Linked DNA regions of Homo sapiens: region 2 is linked to region 1. The links come from fine-mapping of genetic effects on gene expression. Tissue or cell type: whole blood. Region 1 holds a variant in brackets; the other region holds the start of a gene. All regions are shown on one strand. Distances are between the middles of the regions.

The links. PIP is the estimated chance that this variant, and not a neighbour inherited with it, causes the effect.
Region 2: ADA2 starts here. The variant in region 1 is fine-mapped to the expression of ADA2 in whole blood (INTERVAL, PIP above 0.99).

The regions. Positions count from the first base shown.
Region 1 is chr22:17,179,819-17,182,484 of GRCh38, reverse strand. ADA2 (adenosine deaminase 2) reads left to right here. Exons shown (of 10, transcript NM_001282225.2): 9 at 463-665; 10 at 909-2,666. The coding sequence ends at 1,002. Among named protein-coding and RNA genes, the nearest start is that of HDHD5-AS1, 22 kb to the right of the region's middle. The variant G/C (reference allele first, on the strand shown) is at 1,212.
Region 2 is chr22:17,218,205-17,221,006 of GRCh38, reverse strand. ADA2 (adenosine deaminase 2) reads left to right here and starts at 1,572. Exons shown (of 10, transcript NM_001282225.2): 1 at 1,572-1,651. RefSeq lists enhancers at 1,785-1,914, 1,925-1,994, 1,835-2,195.

The sequences.
Region 1 (2,666 bases):
ACTCTCCTACCCCTGTTAGTAAAGTTATTCAGGAGGGGCCTTTTGCCTAAGCCACCAATAAGAATGAGGCAGCAGTGAGGGTCCCCAGTGGGGTGGAATTTTGGGCAAGACTGTAGACAAAGCAAAAAGGACATGGGGGGAGGCCAGTGAAGTGGGACGGACCATGGGATGCTGCTCCCCATGGTTTCTTGGGGTCCTTTGTGTCTGTGTTCAGTTAGCGCTTCTCTGAGCAGGAACAGAAGTGACCCGATGTTTGCAGTGCTGATGAAACATGAGGAGGAGCATAAGGACTGGCTCTGTTCCTTATGTCTCCTTGTGACTCTGCCCAGAAGTCATCCCCATACTGGGGAGATAGTGATGGGAAGATGAAGGGAGCTGATGGGGCTCAAGGTCTCACCTCACTTGTGACTACTCTTTTTAGGGATCAGAGTTCATCTTTCTCCCTTCCCTCCTATTGCGCAGGTGCTGAAACTGGTGTCTGACTTGAGGAACCACCCTGTAGCCACTCTGATGGCCACTGGGCACCCCATGGTGATCAGCTCTGATGACCCAGCTATGTTTGGTGCCAAAGGCTTGTCCTATGATTTCTATGAGGTCTTCATGGGCATTGGGGGGATGAAGGCTGACCTGAGGACCCTCAAACAGCTGGCCATGAACTCTATCAAGTGAGTGTCCTGTGTCCTCCCAGGTCCCCCGCCTCCTTCCAGCCCGCAGCTTGTGTTTGCCTCTCTGGAGGCTTGAGGCAGATGCCTCGATGGTTCCTGTGGGTTCCTTCTCATCATGGCTGTTTAGTCCTTGCTGCTGGCCTGGGGAGAGTGCTCTGCAAGGCTCTAATGTCCTCTCAGGCTCCCTGCCCCGTTCCCCAACCCCTGCCCTGAGGCTGACCTGGGCTCCTCCTCTTCCTGCAGGTACAGTACCCTGTTGGAGAGTGAGAAAAATACTTTCATGGAAATCTGGAAGAAGAGATGGGATAAGTTCATAGCAGATGTGGCTACAAAGTGAGGAGAAGCTAGCCAGCCCTCTACAAGCTGTCTTCTTGCACACGCTGTCACTTCCTCTCACTCGTTCTTGAATCAGCTCCATGTGCCCATGAAATCAATGGCCTCTGTATGGAGCGACCCTGTGAGAAGCACTTGGCTGGCTGAGCAAATTCATCCTCTGGAAATATTCTCTCTCAGCCACAGTGACATTGACCCTCTTGGTTTTCTCCT[G/C]TCTCTGGCCATTTCTTCCAGTTTCCCTATTTCAGAGTCTTCTCCTCTCTCTGATCTCTGTGCTGTTTCCTCAGGACTCAGTCCTGGGCTCTCTTCTATTCTGGTCTCTTTATTTTTTTATTTTTGTATTTTTTCGAGATGGAGTTTTGCTCTTGTTGCCCAGGCTGGAGTACAATGGTGCGATCTCAGCTCAGTGCAACCTCCGCCACCCGGGTTCAGGCAATTCTCTTGCATCAGCCTCGCGAGTAGTTGGAATTATAGGCATGTGCCACCACACCCAGCTGATTTTTGCATTTTTAGTAGAGACAGGTTTTCACCATGTTGGCGAGGCTGGTATCCAACTCTTGACCTCAGGTGATCCACTCGCCCCTTGGCTCCCAAAGTGCTGGAATTACAGGCATTAGCCACCATGCCTGGCCTATTCTGGTCTCTTTAACTCTCTCCTCTTTATTTCTCTTCTCTCTCTGTACACTTTTCCTGGGTGGTCTCATCCATTCCTTTGCTTTTTCATACCATTTATTTGTTAATGATTCCCACATTTATTTATGCACTTGGAGAGCTCACAGGAATCTCAGAAACTGATGAGGTACAATTCTGAACCCTCAGTCTCTTCCCTTTAAACCTTTCTTTTTCTCTACTTTAATTTTTCTAAAGAGTGTCTTGCTATGTTGCCCAGGCTGGTCTCCAACTCAAGTGATCCTCCTGCCGCAGTCTCCCGAAGTGCTGGGATTACTGACATGAGCCACCACACTCAGCCCTTTAAACCTTTCCCTGGCCTTTCCCATAGCTGGTGAAGGACACCTCCATCCATTCCACGCAGTTGCTCAAAGCAGAAATTTTCAGTGCAAGTCTTGATGCTGCGCCGTCCCCCACTCCCTACATCAGAACGCATCCCTCATCTGGACTCCAGCGGTGGCTTCTTGATGCTGCGCGGTCCCCCACTCCCTACATCAGAATGCATCCCGCATCCAGACTCCAGCGGTGGTGCTCTACCTGCACGCTGTTGCCAAGTCCAAGCTACCATACTCCTGCCTGAGCTATGACAACAGCCTCCTCACTGATCTCCCCTTTCTTCCCTTTGCCTCCTCCAGCTCATTTTTCACAGTGTAGAATGACATTTTGTTTGTTTGTTTTGTTTTGTTTGAGATGGAGTCTCGCTCTGTTGCCCAGGGTGGAGTGCAGCGGTGCGATCTCGGCTCACTGCAACCTCCACCTCCCGGGTTCAAGCGGATTCTCGTGCCTCAGCCTCCTGAGTAGCTGGGATTACAGGCATGCACCACCATGCCCGGATAATTTTTGTATTTTTAGTAGAGATGGGGTTTCACTATGTTGGCCAGGCTGGTCTCGAACACCTGACCTCGTGGTCCACCCGCCTCGGCCTCCCAAAGCACTGGGATTACAGGCGTGAGCCACCCGGCCTGGCCTAGAATGACTTTTAAAAGATCAAATTAAATC
Region 2 (2,802 bases), 38 kb before region 1:
CACACCTAATTTTTGTATTTTAGTAGGGGCTGGTCTCGAACCCCTTCCATTGTGATCCACCTGCCTCGGCCTCCCAAAGTGCTGGGATTACAGGCATGCACCACTGAGCCCAGCCTAGTCTTGAACTCTTGATGAGGGAATCCCTGACCCCTCTGTGTTTTCACTTTGGGATTTCTTCCTGTTTATTAAATGAATGACCTTGGTACTTTTTGGAGAAAATGACAAAAAGGAGCATCAAGGCTCCAGATGTATGGGAGCTGCAGAACTGAAACTGCCGTGGGCTTTTGGGGGTAGATTTGGGGTCTTGGGGGTAGATTTGAGTGGGACTGGGGAGGAGTGGGGTGCAATCGAGTCTTTAGACCATGCATGTGACATGGAGGTCCCTGGTGTAGCCTCCCATGTCTGCATTTCTAATTGGCTTGGATGAGGCATCCCAATAGTTACTTCTAAGAATAGTCATGGCTAATATTTATCAAGAGCTTTCTATGTGGCAGGTACTTTGCATGTGTTTTTCCTTTAATTCTGACAATGGACCCTCTGTGGTGGGTGCTTTTATTATCCACATTTTCAGATGAGGAAACTGAAGTATAGAGAGTTGAAACAACTTGGTCGAGGCCCCACTGCTACAGTGCTAAGGCCAGCTACAAAGCGAGGTCTGACTCTGACCGTCCTGGGTACAGGAGCCTTGTCTGCTCCACTTGTCCCTTGGAGCGTTGTTCTTGCTGGTCCTCTTCACACCCCAGCTCTTGTCTCCTACCTCCTGCCCCCTCTACTGTCCTGTCCCCGCATCCCTGATTTCCCCCCTAAAACATATATTTTATTATAGCTACTTTTTACTCTCTGTCTAATGGGTTGCCCCACAGTCCACAATCACATTTTGAGGAAGGAGAACTTCCCAGAGTTCATGAACAGATTTTGGAGTGCCTCTTTGCGGTGCTTGTTTCCAAAACCAACATGCTGTGGACCTTTCAAAGACACAGTACACACAAACACACACACACCCTCCCTCCAACACAAATAAACCCACATGCGGCCGGGCATGGTGGCTCACGCCTGTAATTCCAGCACTTTGGGAGGCCGAGGTGGGCGGATCACCTGAGGTCAGGAGTTCGAGAGCAGCCTGACCAACATGGTGAAACCCCATTTCTACTAAAAATACAAAAAATCAGTGGGGCATGGTGGCGCACGCCTGCAATCCCAGCTACTCGGGAGGCTGAGGCAGGAGAACTGCTTGAACCCGGGAGGCGGAGGCTGCAGTGAGCTGAGATTGCGCCATTGCACTCCAGCTTGGGCAACAAGAGTGAAACTCTGTCTACAAAAAAAAAAAAAAAAAAAAAAAAACAAACCCCACATGCACATAAACCGAAACACACACGAACACACAAACACCCACATGAACATGCGCACAAGCCCCCCACATCAAACTCAGATGCACACAGCAAGCATGCATGTAAGCCACACACTTGCCACTCTGGCTGCCTCAGCACTGCAGAGCCCCTCTCCCCGGCCTCTAGTTGGATCCCTGGTGCACACTGGAGGGAAATAAAACCTACCCCAACAGGAAGTGAAACAGTTGGTGAGCTTTTCCGGTGCTCTGCACAGATGCTGGGGCGCTGAGCAAACAGCCCTCAGTTTCTGGAGCTGTTCCGAGGTAACTGGGGTCCTTTGGGAGCTGTGGGATGATGAGGTTCAGGAGGTAGCTGGGAAGTCCGGAGCTTGGGCTTGATCCACCTGCACCTCTCCCTGTCTCCATCTGAGCTGGGTCTGAGACTCTCAGTGGAGGAGTAACAGGCTTTCTCCCAACAGGCTTTTGAAAATGGGCCCAAGGGCATTTACTCAGGACCACAGATGCATGTGGCCTACTCCACTGTCACCAGGCTGGAGTGTGGTGGCACGATCTCGGCTCTCTGCAACTTCTGCCTCTCGAGTTCAAGCCATTCTTGTGCCTCAGCCTCCCTAATAGCTGTGATTACAGGCACCCACCACCACGCCCGGCTAATTTTTGTATTTTTAGTAGAGACGGGGTTTCACCGTGTTGGCCAGGCTGGTCTTGAACGACTGACGTCAGGTGATCTGCCTGCCTCGGCCTTCCAAAGGGCTGGGATCACAGGCAGAGCCACCACACCCAGCCTCCTTTCTTCTTAGTCTGGAAGCAAACTACTTTATGAAGTTTTCATGCATCCTCTTTTAAAAGTAAAAGGAAAATCTTGTGGAGGAGAGAAGATGAAGTAGATATAGCAATAAATTGTGAATAAGGATTGTTTTTACTAGTATTCAACCAGGCAGGTCTTGACCACCATTAGATAAACTTCTGTCTGGCAGCCTGGAAAAGTTCACAGTTGCTGGGACACAAATGCTTTTGGGGTCCTTCTTGGAGAGGATGGAGTTGAAGATTTGGGAGCTTGATGGCCTTTGTTATGTGTCACCAGGGAGACAGGGACAAGGGGCGGGGCTGTTGATGGAGAATGTGGCATGGGGTAGGTGGGATGGTGACATAGAAGTCACCGTGCTCCTGCCCTAGAGATTTTAGTAGCAGGCAAACACCGTGGTCAAAAAAGAGAGTCAAGGACTTAATGAAGTTAAAGGGGTTCTGCTGACGTCCAGCACTCTGATTTTGGGGGTACAGCTTCTGCCATAACTGCATATTGCTGATACTAGTTCCTTCTTAAAATTTTCTTTGCTATCTGATGTACTACAGAATAACTGAGCTGGGAAGAATCTTGGATATTAAAATGATTTAATGAGTAGCAAACTTTCCATTTTTGTCATATCCTTGCACCTCTATTTACTTAATATTTTTCT